2 linked regions of the Homo sapiens genome follow. The protein of the gene in region 2 interacts with the protein of the main gene of each other region in a biochemical or structural test. Each region holds a gene or a part of one and is shown on either strand. Other genes may lie near its edges.

Region 1 (7,025 bases), on a different chromosome or scaffold from region 2:
TAAAGAGCACTTTTAATTTGTACTTTTATTACTGACTTGATTCTTCTGTGAAACATTTAAAAGCTGAGATTTGTCAACAAAAGCAAAAAATTGATAAATCAGACTTCATCAAAATTAAAAACTTACATCAAAAGACGCTATAAATGAAGTAAAAAGCACACAGAATGGGAGAAAATATTTGCAAATTATATCTCTGGTAAGGAATTAATATCCAGAATTTGTAATAACAACAGAAAAACCAAACAACCCATTTTAAAATGGGTAAATGGATATTTCTCCAAAGAAGATATACAAATGGCTAATAAGCGTGCGAAAAGATTGCTCAACATCAGTAGTCATTAGGGAGATGCAGATCAAACTACAATGTGATAACACTTCATGTTCATTAGGATGGCTATTATTTTTTAAAAATGGAAAATAACAAGTGTTGCCAAGGATGTGGAGAAGTTGGAATCCTGTGCATTGCTGGTGGGAGTGTAAAATGGTATAGCCACTGTGGAAAACAGTTTGGGCACTTAAAAAATTAAATATGAAGTTACCATGTGATCCAGCAATTGTACTTCTAGGTAGATACCCAACCAAACTGAAAATAGGGATTCAAACAGATACTTGTAGGTCAGTGTTCACATTAGCACTATTCACAGTAGCCAAAGGTGTCAACAATCCAAATGGCCATCAACAGATAAATAGGGAAACAAAATGTGGTGTATTCATACAATGGAATATCATTCAGCCTTAAAAAGGAATGAAATTTTTCTACCACAATATGCATGAATCTTGAATGCATTAGGCTCAGCAAAATATATTGTATGATTCCACTTACATGAGGTATCTAGAATAGGCAAATTCATAAGTATAATAGTAATTATGAATTAGTACTATGGTATGAATAGTAGTACTCATGAATTTGCCTATTCTAGATACCTCTTGTAAGTACAATAGAGGTTGCCAGGGCTGGGGAAAGGGGGAATGAAGAGTTCTGTAAACATATAATGGTGGTGGTTGCACAACATTGTAAATATACTTAGTGCTACAGAGTTATACACTTAAAAATTGCTAAAATGGTGAATTTTATATATATGTATTTGTATATTTTGCCATAATTTAAAAGAAAAAGCTAATGGCTGTTTTACAAGGTTATAGACATCATTATGCCCATTATAATACAAAGTGTCAATGTGTTCTGTCTTAAAGGTGCTCTCATATATATTTAGTTGTTTTGTCACCATATTCTTTGTTATGCATTTGCTGATAGTTTACCTATCTTAATCCTTATTTTAAAAGCAACTAGCAGCCTTCTACTTCATCAGTTTCTGTTGCTTGATCTGTAATTACCTAAAGCTTTAGGTTATTTTGAATAATTTTCACTCTTAAAATAACATTTGTATGTATGTATTTATATTAAAATCAGTACTAATAGTATTTTTAATAAGTATTAAAACTATAATATATTCATTCTCTTGTTAAGAATTAAGAAATCCAGCTGTCATAGAAAAGTCTTCCCTCATTGCAGTATTTTGCTTGCAGGATGAAGATGAGCTGGATTCCCACACCATGGTGAAGACTAGTGTGGAGAGTGTGGGCACCATGCGGGCCACAAGCACGATGAGTGAAGGGGCCCAGACCATGATTGAACATAATAGCACGATGTTGGAATCCGACTTGGGGACCATGGTGATAAACAGTGAGGATGAGGAAGAAGAAGATGGAACTATGAAAAGTATGTGGCTTTTTTACATTAAATATTAGTTTTCTAATTCGAAAGGATACTTTTATAGGAACCAGGCTAGTTCTGTGTTACTTTTTATAGCCAACTGTGGAAAATTTTGTTTCTTAGATTTATGTAACAGTAAAAAAGAGTATGGCACAAGTCACCTTTTTAAAATTGTATTTTAATATAGCAGAAAACAACACATCTTCAACTTAGAGTTATGGAACTTTTTTCTGTTGAAGGTTGCTAACCCACGGCTTAATTTGCAAAGTATTTTAGAGAGAAAAAGATAGTGTTCCTAACATTTACTTTCCCAATTAAAAAAGTGAACCTAAAATTATCTTCCAGTAAATTCAACAGACTATTATTTTATGTTGTCCAAATTATCAGTTAAACCACAAAGAGCAGTGCGAGCTATGGGAAGAAATAAGGTGGGAAAATAAGAAGCACTAGAAAGAAGGATTAAGAGACAGGGATGCTCATACAGAAGATTCAGTTGCATGAATATTTACTGCTGCTTATCATATGTGAGGCACAGTGCTGGGGGTGCTGCAGTGGCTAAAATGATGATCAAACATTCTCTCTGACCTCTGTTGCTTACAAAGTGATGACAATAGGAATGCTTTCACAGACTAGCACTTCTCTTTTTTAAAAACAGTTTTTTAAGATACTGCAGTTAACATCGTAGGTCATTGTGATTTCACAGTTATAGGCAAAAATGAATTTTCTCTTAGCACCAACTGACCTTTTTCTTCCTGTCATGCTCCTACCCTAGTCCTGTGTGGTTAGTGTCAAAGTCTAAGCAAGCACTAGGCTGCTTTCCACTGAAGAGTATTGCCTCTCCATGGCAGAACAGCAGAATTACATGACTTCTAGCATTGTAGAACCTAGAAAATTGTAAATATTCAAGTGATTTGCTGGTACTGCAAAATGGATACCAGAATTTTCTCTCAGATACTTCCATTTCCTTTTTGCCCACCCTTTTCTTTTTGCTACTCCGCCATGAGGTCTGACCCATAACTTCAAGTCACGTGGCTCAGTACTGCTGCTTTCTTCACATTCCCTAGTTCTGTGTAGCCCACTATGGTTGCATATGTACTTTGGATAGAGAGGATCATGAAGCACAAAATGTAATAGATTGCTATATTGCCATAATCCTGGGGGTGGAGTATGAATTTTCTATCTCCTGCCATTGGTGGGTCTTCTGTGCCTTTTTCCTGGAAAGCAGCCTACATCTTGGATTTCCTGAAATTCCTAGCTGGGCATCTGACTAGAGTAAGTTTTCTGCATCCATAACGTGCCTCACTCCACTGCAGAGGATGGTCTTATGGCCTCCAGAACCAGCTAGTGTTGGGGTACAAGTGGATCACAAAGACTCTGTGGTAAAACAGTTAACACATTTTTCATCAACATGTAATATCAATTTTCCATAAGCTGATATAATTTTTAACTCAAATTTTATGATTCTTAACAGATCAATTAGATCATTGAGTGCTTTTTTGTGTCTTTAGGGAGTTACTGAGCTCCTTATGAAACTATATGAACAACTTTTCATGCAGTCATATAGTTGAACATCAGCATATATATAATAGTTAAGAAAAATGAGTCTTTATAGAATCTAATTCATTTAGATTGCAGTGTATTATATTTCAAGGAAGAGAGACTAATGATGATGTTTCCGACATCATACTTTATACCACAGATTTCTGACATTTTGTATAGTGACTTTTAGATTTGACATCCACAAAAATCAATACATGTTATAATTTTGTTATAACTGATTGTATAGGTATGACTTTTTGTCACAGAGATTTTAGTGAAAACCAATTTTGAAGTTGAACAGATAAGTGGTTTTTATAGCTGCAGTTGTTTTATGGACCTCAGCAAATTTTAAATCCCATGAGCCAACTTTCTGTGTTTTTTGTTTTTACAAGTTAGACATCATTCTGTAATGTGAGACTTCAGTGTTTCCAAAATTCTAATCAAGTGATGTTAGTATAACCCCTAGGGATTGTCATATTGTAGTATAGCAGTAGTAAAGTATGTGAAGAAGTTATTGAGGGAAGACTTACTTTTTCTGAAACCATATAATTATTGTAGTTTTGTTTTTCTCGTGATCTAAATCTTTAAAACTTCTTAAATTAGTTGGTATGAGGTCTCAGCTTATGTCACATCAGTCAAAGCCACATTTGCTAATGTGTCTTTAGCATTTTTGTTCCCTAATAAGATGATAGCAGTATATTATTTTTGGTTTTCTAAAATCTCTACAATGTGTACTGAAGATTTAGAATTTCATCTCTTTTTCCATTGGAGTTTCAAGTGAGTTGCCTGATTTAACATCCTTGTCAGTTTAAATTATGTTTACACTTACTCTTTTATACCTTTAACCATGAAGCTAGAAATTATGGGCCTATTTTCCTTACCTCTAGAAAGGAAAATTACCCACAGACCCTTTGAAGGGAAGTGGAGAAAAATGACAAAAAGTATTTTAAAATTTGATCTGCCTTTTAAAAAATGGACGTGGACCCTATGGGCATGTCCCAAGAATAACTTTCTAAACCTGTTTTTAGCAATGATGGCATTACTTTTACCCTCCCGCTCCCAGTCTTCCTATTCAGATATCCCTAAGGCCTCCTCATTCCCCATGGAATGTCCAGGCTTCAGCTGTGTCACCAAGATCCTTCACAGTCTGGCACTAGCCATTATTTACATGTGGATCTCTACTTCTTCCTTATGGATTATGTTTTATCCATACTAGTCTGTGCCAGTTGGAATTCTGAATGCTTGACACTGGGTAAAAGCAGGTTGGTTGTCATTCAAGAAAATCAATTTAGGATTTATTATCCTGGAGTAGATTAGGACCAGGTCAAGAATCTATGTCATCAAACTGATGGGGTAGGAGAGATTATTTCATCATGGGTGACTCTGGGAGAGTAGTAGCTTCAGCAAAGAAAGACTGGGGCTTTTTAGTTTGTTCAGCTCAGATCTACTCAGTTAGCTCTGTTTTTATGGAGGAACTTTCTGATCTTACAGAGCTGTGGCTAGATTGGTAGCACTAGTTGCCCTGGAGGGAAACTATGTCTTATGGGTATCTGAGGAAGAGCCATATTTTCCAGCCAGGTTTTTATTTTTCATGTGTGTATCTGTTGTTTCTCCAGATAAGTCACGAAGTTTGTCCTGGTAAGAATGCTGTATAAATCTCCTCTGCCACATAATAGTACATGCTCTTGGAATATTGGTTTCATGAATGAATACTAATTACAGTAGAGTCAGAGTCAAGCTGTGTGTGTGTGTGTGTGTGTGTGTGTGTGTGTGTGTGTGTGTGTGTTATAGTAGAATTAAAGATACATAGCTCTGGAAGCTAAGAGAACTTTCAGGTAAACCTCCTGCCTTGGTAAGATACTTTCTTTTCAAGTGTTCTACCATCCCTGCTTCTCATTTCACAGAGCAGACCCTCTGAAAATGTGTTCCTTAAGATACCCATTCAGTGAAATTCTCTGATAAATATAGATAAATAATATACAGTAATCAGAATTATTTGGGAAATGCATATTTATCCTAGAGATAAATTATTAGAGAACTACAGTATATATTATTAACTTATTAAATACAAATAGTACAGGAAGGAAACAGTTTAAAAATTACATTACCCAAACTTTCCTTCACTTATTTGACCATGAAAAGCTTTTAATGAGGAACGTATCAGTGATTAACATCCTGTGTAATAAGCATCTGAGAAACACATTTTGGGAAATGCTATCATGAGAGCCCTCTAGTTCCCTGACCCTAGTTCCTAGTCTGCTTTCTTTTTATTAGCACACCCTCCCTTCACTTCTATATCCAGCTTAGAGGCTATATTTCATTATTTCGTTGCTTCTGCCACTCTCGTATGTTCTAAACTCCTCTTAGAGGCTATATTTCATTATTTCATTGCTTCTGCCACTCTCTTATGTTCTAAACTCCTCTTAGAGGCTATATTTCATTGCTTCTGCCACTCTCTTATATTCTAAACTCCACTGCCCTAATGTCTTGTCTTTTCTGCCTCTCCTGGAAAACTTTGATATGGTCCAGTCTCAGTGTTCATCTTCTCTGCATCTTTACCCTGGCTATTGAGTGCTGCTGGAGATAATCTTCCATCTGCACAGATGAGGGCTGCCAGATCAAGACCTTCTCCCCCATTTGGGCCCTCAACTTTCCTGGAGGCCTGTGTTTCTCTGTTCAGCAATTCCTCATTCTACAGAGTGGCTAGTTTAGATCTTCACTAGATCTCTTCTTCCTGCCTCCCATCTCAGTTTCAGTAGATGACGTTGCTCCCTACTTTACAGAAAAAAAGTGAAATGTTATCATGCAAGTACCTAGAGAAGCTGTATAGGTGTTTTAAATGTGGTCTTTGGAATAAGGTTGAAAAATTGAGTCATTCTTAATTTCCGTTTCTTCCTTCACCCTTCATGGAAGTAACATCTCATCAGTTCTGCCCCCTAAATATCCCTATTCTCTTCTCATGATCTCTGCTTGCATTTCTTTAGTGCAAGTCCTCATAGTTTCTCACTTGTGAGGCTTCTAAACTGATCCTCTGCCTCCAATCTTCATTCCCTCCCCACCATACAGATTTCAGCACATTTCTCTTCTGCTTATGCCCTCCCAGTGACTACCAATTGCTTATAGGCTAAAGCTCAACACCAGTTAAGAAGCAGTATATGCTCTGGTTCCTACTTACCTTTCTATTCCCTCTTCATCCTTCTTCCAGCTTCTCAGCTCTTACAGAGCTTTTTTACCTTTGGCCACTTGCAATGCCTAAATCCTCCTGTGGGATTTATGCTTCTTTTGCTAAATCATATTCATTCACTCAGGCTCAGTTAAGAGGTTGCTTCCTCTATCAACCCCAGGTTAGGAATAAGTGCCCCTCTAATAGGCTCCCATCTCACCCCAAGCTTTCACTCTTACAGCACTGTCATGCTTTATTGTGAGCGTGTGCTTTTGTTTATTTCCCACTGTATTTTTGATACCTAATACAATACCTAGCACTTGGTAAGAGTTCATGAAATGTTTTCTGAACAAATGATGTGGTATAGTGAAGAGCATGGGATGTGAAGCCAAATCATTTAGTAATTGTGTTGCTTAATTCTGTCTGAGTTTCAGTGATAAATATTTGTCTCTCTGTTGTGTGTATATGTGCAGGTGTGTGTATTAGGTAAATTCAAAACATGCCTAGCAGTGTTTTAAATATAGTTGATAATCAATAAAGGATAATATTCATCTGTCCACCCTATTAATTTATCCTTCCAACAACTTGATAAGAGGGAGCATCCGGGAA
Region 2 (7,405 bases):
ACAAAAACAAAACAAAACAAAAAGTTGTTTTGTGTTCTTGTAGAAAAAATCCTGAACCAGGAAGACCAGAGGGACATGATCACATTTTAAATTTAAAAATAAAAACTGAAATAGGGTAACGTAAGCCAGGAATTAAAAGGAAAAGGCAGAAAGAGGCTAGCATTGTGCCCCAAAGGAACTCGGACACCTAGCAGTAAGAGATAAAAACCACAAAGGAAGACAGATAAAGAAAGTGATAAAGCAGAGGGCAATACCTGGAGGGAAGGGAGGGGTTTGGAGAGGAAGAGAAGGGGGAGGGGTAATCATTAAAATATTGGTTTCCCAGTACCAAGGTTAAGTTTCCAGGAATCCCAGCTCTACTCCTCACTATGGTAGACCCCTGGGCTAGATGCTTTGCCTCTTTGGGTCTCAGTTTTCCTCATTTGTAAAATGTGACTAATACTCAGTAGGGTTATGAATTTTTAAAATAGACAATCTGTTCCTAACAGTTTTTTTGATATGTTGTATCTTTGAAGATAATTTCAAGATCCCACCAACCCTTCCTCTCTGAAGGCACAAGCACACCTCTTCTTTTCAACGCTGGCTCTGAAGAAATATTGGTGGGGCTAAGTTCTGGTTATGCGAGCAGTCAGGGTACGCCATTGCTTTAATAACACCAATGGTCAAGCTGGAATGGGCTTCAGGAATCATTACTCTAACCCTCTTTTCTGTAAACAAGACACTCTAGCACAGCACGATTAAGAGTTCTGCCCAAGGATGCAATGAATTCCCAGAACTAGAACCAAATCAAGGAACCTGCGTCATAACTAGAAAGAAGGTCACAGACTGGTCACCTTGGGAGCAGCTCACCACTGGTTAAAACATAACCCTAGGAAAGCTGAAATCTGAGTGACAGGCTTAATGGCTTAAAAATTATCACAGGAGTAAAACATTTAACACCAAACTATGAGCAGGAAAAGAACAGAATGCTCTAAAATATTCAGAGTGAATGCACATAAATATTTATCTATTTCCAATACTTAACAGTGTAAAGTCCACAGCACGTCATTAATTCTGGTTAATACAACTATATTAGAAACTGAGAAACAATATGGCATGGAGGTTAAGATACCCGAGAGCTCCACAGTCCTTCAGACAGGGTTGGAATTCCAGCTCAACCACAGATCAGCAATGTGAAACCTTTAGGAAGTTACTGCATTTCTTTGTGCTTTGAATACTCCATCTGTAGAACGGGTAATCGTGTAAGGAAGTAAGTCAATGATTACAGACTGAGTACTTATAATACCGCTAGGGTAAACTATCAATAAAACTTGATTGTATTTTTTAAATATCATTGCTCAAAAGATTGGTATCACCAGAACTGGGCAAAATTTTCAGGTATCCAAGGTCCAGAAACCAGGAAAGTAATTTGTAAAGGATCCTTTCCCGAGTAAGGGATTAGCTCACCCCTCTATAAGCTGAAAACCTTTTTGTAATTCCTGGGGAATGAAGAGCCCTAATGACTTTTTTTTCTTTTTAAAGGAAAAGGGTTACAAGAGGTTTCTACTGCTGGGCTAAGGCCCTGGTGGCTTCTGGTAGCTATAAAACCACGAACGTTAGGTAAGGATTAGAGAAGAAACCCAGAGTGGCTGTGAGTCAAGAAAAGACATCAGATAACAGCAATTATTTTACCATTATGTGACACGTAATACTAATGTTCCTACCTGAAGATAAAGAGCACAATTTTAAAATCTCCGCTCCTCCATTTCCAAAATCCAACAGCTGCTGGTCCCCCTACCACTTAAGCCATATTCTGCCCTCCAATTCGGCTGCGCAGCCTGCATTAGAGAAACACCAGGCAAGTGGGCGGGGGAGGGGGTAATGGGGAAAACGCCCGGATGCTGAAAGATACCTAATACTTTTCTGTTCCTACTCACTGCCTGCGGTAGTTTTAACTACTTAAGCCGGTGTCCAAAACGGAGAAAAAACGTCTCAGTCCTGCCTTATCGCGACCAGGTACCAGGTGATCAGAAATCAACACGAGGAGGCTGGCTGTCCCCACACAAGCCCCGGAGCCTAGAACGATGAGGCAAGAGGGCTGTTGGGCAGAGAACGTGACCTTGTTTTCCAGGCCAGGACTGTCTTGTGCTCCCCTAACCCCCTGTAATGCAAGAAAATTACTGAATAGCTTCTGAACCTTTTCGTCCCAAGACCAATGATATGAGAGCCAAAGTCAACTTCATTAAAGGAGAACCAGCCAAGGCAGAAATCGACTGGGTTTGCGCAAACCTCACCGCACAGCACAATGTCCCTGCGTTCTTAAAGGCAGCCAATCCATGGCCCCGATCTAACCAGTCTCGCCCACAGGGGCCCTATTTTGTGCACCGCAACCCACACACGGTCTCAGCTGCTGAGACCGTGTGTGGGTTGCTGAGTCACTGAAGACGGCGGCTCGGCCCCCAAAACGCCGTCAGCCCTGAAGTGGGGTTCGGGGCCCAGGCATACGGGGTTTTAAAAGCTCTACAGTCTGGACGTCCATTGGCTCTGGCACTGAAGGGCGTTCAGGATTAAGTAATTCTCGGAACCTCCCTTCTCCAGAGCCGCCTGGGCGCCCCAGGGAAGCCATCTCGACTACCCGCCCCCGCCCCCGCGGGCCCTTCCCCTCCCATCCCCTCCGCTCCTCTACACTCACGGGGACCCTGTCCGGATATTTCTTCCGGATCTTTTCTCCTTCCTTTTTCCGATACTCAAAGGGATGGTCCTCCTTGTACTGGAACTTCATGATGCACCGCAGGGCTTCCGAGATCCCCGCGCGGGGCCTGCCTCCTTCGCCGCTGACCCTGTCCCGCTCCCTCAGCCGACGTCAAGGTGTGCTCAGAATAGCTGCAGAAACGTCCGCTCCGGGGGCAACAGCGCTGGGCCGAGTGTGCAGGGGGGGTTCGGGGCGGGGATCTCGGGTGAGCCTGCCTGGAGGTAGAGGAGAGCCAGATGGAGAAATACCGGCGGCTTTTCGCTAGAGCTGGGAGCACAAAAACAGCTGGGTGGCGCGTCGGGCTGTGACGTCACCCCGCGAGCCCCGCCCCGCCCCCCATGCGCCAGGCGCCCAGGGCAGGGGGTGGCCGAGCGCTCTGTCTCACTGCGTTTCCTTTCTGGCTAACCTTTTTCACAATCGATGTCACTGCAAACATCAAAACATTCGAGTTATGTTTTATTTTGTGACTGTGAAATTAAAGATGGTTTTAAGACAAAAAAAAGATTTAAACATGTTTTATTCCCCCTCCACTGTTTTTCTTGGTTGGGCCCCAAAACAAATACAAAAGGCGAAAATCCAGCCTTTTCCTGCTGGTTGGGATCCAGCCTCAGGAGAAAAGAGGGCCAGGCCTCCTGGGATCCCTTTGGCCAATGCAGAGCTGTCCCGTGCTTGCACCGTGCCCTCTGCGCGTTCCGCTGCCCCTCCCGCGGCCCTCCTCCCGCGCTGGCGTCACAGTGTTTGGGCGGTGCCGCAGTTCGCTCCTGAACAGCAACATAAACAGAGCGTGACTCAGGAATCTGAAGAGAGGAGTCAGATGAAGGACACGGAGTGTAATCAAAGTCTAAAGGAGACATGATGTCAGTAAGGACTACCGAGGGCTTCACGTACAATCAAATATAGAAATGATTCACTTTCTAGCCGGGCGCGGTGGCTCACGCCTGTAATCCCAGGAGGCCGAGGCGGGCGGATCACCTGAGGTCAGGAGTTCGAGACCAGCCTGACCAACATGGAGAAACCCTGTCTCTACTAAAAATACAAAATTAGCTGGGCGTGGTGGCGCATGGCTGTAATCCCAGCTACTCTGGAGGCTGAGGCAGGAGAACCGCTCTAACCCGGGAGGCGGAGGTTGCGGCGAGCGGAGATCACGGCGTCGCACTCCAGCCTGGGCAACAAGAGCGAAACACCGTCTTACAGAAAAAGAAAGGAAGGGAGGGAGGGAGGGATTCACTTTCTGCCATAAACTCAGAAAGGGGGCTCGTCTTCTGGAAAAGAGAGTATCAAGCAATTTAGGTGATGACCTCAGTTGTTCCCCCACATCTTATTTAGTTCCAGTGGTTAGGTATCCCTCACGTGACTAGAAAGCGCTGCCTGGAATGCTAGTAGAAGATTGGGCATTAGGGCAGGTGAGGCGAAGCCTCGTTCTGGATTTCCCCACCTAGAGTCAAAGAAGAAAGACCTTCCAACCAGTACTGTAGGGCAGCGACAGGGAGGACTGTGGAGTTTGCAAAGAAAAAGAACAGTGAAAAGGGGCTGCGTTGCCCATACAAGTCGGGTGAGTTCTGATAAATATTAGATAACAGCAGCCCCGTGGCCTATCTTCTTCAGTCGGGGTCTCAGTGTCTCTAATTTTAAAAACACCCACAGGGGGCCAGGCGCGGTGGCTCACGTCTGTTCTCCCAGCACTTTGGGAGGCCCAGGCCGAGGATCGCTTGAGCTCAGGAGTTCAAGACCAGCCTGGGTAACATGGCAAAACCCTGTCTCTACAGAAAAAACAAAAATTAACAAGGCATGGTGGCGCGCTCCTACAGTCTCAGCTACTGTGGAGGCTAAGGCAGGAGAATCGCTTGAATCCGGGAGGCAGTGGCTGCAGTGAGCTGAGATCGCCCACTGTACTCCAGCCTGGGAGAGAGAGCAAGACTCTGTCTCAAAAAGAATAAATAAATAAAAATAGGCCGGGCGCGTTGGCTCATGCTTGTAATCCCAGCACTTTGGGAGGCCAAGGTGGGTGGATCACGAGGTCAAGAGATAGAGACCATCCTGGCCAACATGAGACGAGTGAAACCCCGTCTCTACTAATAATACAGAAAAAATTAGCTGAGCCTGGTGGCGCTCGCCTGTAGTCCCCAGCTACTCGAGAGCCTGAGGCAGGAGAATCACTTGAACCCGGAAGGGAGAACCCGGGAGGGTTTAACTATATTTGCATCAAAACTAAAATGAGGCCGGGCGCAGTGGCTCACGACTGTAATCCCAGCACTTTGGGAGGCGGAGGTGGGTGGATCACGAGGTCAGGAGATCGAGACCATCCTGGCTAGCACGTGAAACCCCGCCTCTACTAAAAATACAAAAAAATTAGCCGGGCGTGGTAGCGGGAGCTTGCAGTGAGCCAAGATCGTGTCACTGCATTCCAGCCTGGGCGACAGAGCTAGACTCTGTCTAAAAAAAAAAAAAAAAACCTAACATGAGCGACTGAAAATTAAACTGTTTTCAATTTGAAAGTAAGACTTAAAATTATAAACATATAATGTGATAAAATAACTCATGGATTTTATTTATTTTATTTATTTATTTGATATGGAGTTTCTCTCTTGTCGCCCAGGCTGGAGTGCAATGGCTCCATCTAGGCTCTCTGCAACCTCTGCCTCCTGGATTCAAGCAATTTTCTCCGGCCTCGTCCTCCTGAGTAGCTGGGATTACAAGGCGCCCGCCACCGCGCCCAGCTAATTTTTTTGTATTTTTAGTAGAGACGAGGTTTTGCCATGCTGCCAGGCTGGTCTCGAACTCCTGACCTCAGGTGATTCGCCCGTCTCGGCCTCCCAAAGTGCTAGGGTTACAGGTACTAGCCACCGCGCCCTGCCCTCATGAATTTTTATACATAAAGATTGAAAGATGCCATGAAGAAAAATACATGAAGAAGTGGGACTATGTGATTCGTTTTCTGGTGCCAGTAATGAAACTTAGTTTCTTTAATTTTGTGGGTGAGTTTTGTATTTATTTTTATTTATTTATTTATTTTTGAGACAGAATCTCACTCTTTCGCCAGGCTGGAGTGTAGGGGCGCAATCTCGGCTGACTAAAACCTCCTCCTCCCGGATTCAAGGGATTCTCCTGCCTCAGCCTCCCGAATAGCTGGGACTATGGGCGCCTGCCACCGCTCCCGGCTAATTTTTGTATTTTTAGTAGAGACGGGGTTTCACCATGTTGGCCAGGATGGTCTCGAACTCCTGACCTCAAGTGATCCACCTTCCTCGGCCTCCCAAAGTGCTGGGATTACAGATGTAATCCGGCCTATGAAAGTAAATTTTAAATTAACACAATCGAGTAAAACATTTCAAAATGTCTTATTTAACCAAAATCAAAATACTACATTAAAAAGCTCACATTTTCTCAAATACATTTTTGATGTTTCTTGTACTTTTTAAAATGATTTCAAGGGTTAGAAGTTTTTTCAATCTTTTATGAATATTTTCAAACATGTAGAGAATTTTGACAAATAGTATGATGAACACCACTATAACCTTCACCTAGATTTTTTCCGTTTGAAAGTAAATTAGAGGACGGGCGCGGTGGCTCACGCCTGTAATCCCAGCATTTTGGGAGCCTGAGGCGGGTGGATCACGAGGTCAAGAGATCGAGACCATCCTAGCTAACACTGTGAAACCCCGTCTCTACTAAAAATACAAAAAATTAGCCGGGTGTGGTGGCGCGCACCTATAGTCCCAGCTACTTAGGAGGCTGAGGCAGGAGAATCGCTTGAACCCGGGAGGCGGAGGTTGCATTGAGTAGAGGTCATGCCACTGCACTCCAGCCTGGGTGACAGAGCGAGACTCCGTCTCAAAAAAAAAAGTAAATTAGAAACATGACACCATCCCAATATACAAATTATATCCCCCCTGAGAATAAGAACATGTTCCTCCATAACCACAATAGTTATTACACCTTAAAAACTACTAATATTTTCCAACATTATCTAATATAGAGCTTATATTTATATTTTCTCAATTGCCCCAAACATACTTTTTTTTCTCCCCCACTCAAGCATTTGAATCTGAAAACAGGTGGAATTTACCATAAAGATAGGTCTGATTTCTTCGATTTAGGGTCTCTCTCTCTCTCTCTTTGTGTGTGTGTGTGTGTGTGTGTGTGTGTGTGTGTGTGTGTGTGTGTAGATGGCGTTTCACTGTTGTTGCCCTTCAGCTAATTGCAACCTCCACCTCCCAGGTTCAAGCGATTCTCCTGCCTCAGCCTCCCAAGTAGCTAGGATTACAGACATGTGCCACCACACCAGCTAATTTTGTATTTTTAGTAGACACGAGGTTTCGCCATGTTGGTCAGGCTGGTCTCGAACCCCTGACCTCAGGTGATCCGCCTGCCTCGGCCTCCCAAAGTGCTGGGATTCCAGGTGTGCGCCACTGCACCTGGCCCAGGGTCTCTTATATTATCACATTTAAATTGATAGATGAAACCAGAATTTTAGTGCATTGGTCTCCAATGACAAATACAATAGCTAGAGGTTTAGTTATTCAGCCATTTTCTAAATTTGCTTGCTAAGCTTGGAATTTAAACAAGGGATTTTATTACTTAATTTGAATTTTTAAATAAGCTGCCATCCACAGATCAAGTGTCAAATACCACCACGATGTGCCTGGCTGACTCCAAGACTAGGAAAATATTTCC

The links.
Region 1: the proteins of GABARAPL1 (region 2) and STK3 form a complex in vitro, tested with the Homo sapiens proteins (2 studies listed by BioGRID and IntAct).

The regions. Positions count from the first base shown.
Region 1 is NC_000008.11:98,542,664-98,549,688, reverse strand, and holds part of STK3 (serine/threonine-protein kinase 3), read left to right. Parts: intron 1-1,527; coding exon 1,528-1,720; intron 1,721-7,025. UniProt on the Homo sapiens protein: Stress-activated, pro-apoptotic kinase which, following caspase-cleavage, enters the nucleus and induces chromatin condensation followed by internucleosomal DNA fragmentation.
Region 2 is NC_000012.12:10,208,486-10,215,890, reverse strand, and holds the start of GABARAPL1 (gamma-aminobutyric acid receptor-associated protein-like 1), read right to left. Parts: upstream 3,015-7,405; 5' UTR 2,762-3,014; coding exon 2,672-2,761; intron 2,243-2,671; exon of another isoform or gene 1,929-2,242; intron 1,838-1,928; exon of another isoform or gene 1,522-1,837; intron 1,250-1,521; exon of another isoform or gene 824-1,249; intron 1-823. UniProt on the Homo sapiens protein: Ubiquitin-like modifier that increases cell-surface expression of kappa-type opioid receptor through facilitating anterograde intracellular trafficking of the receptor. Involved in formation of autophagosomal vacuoles.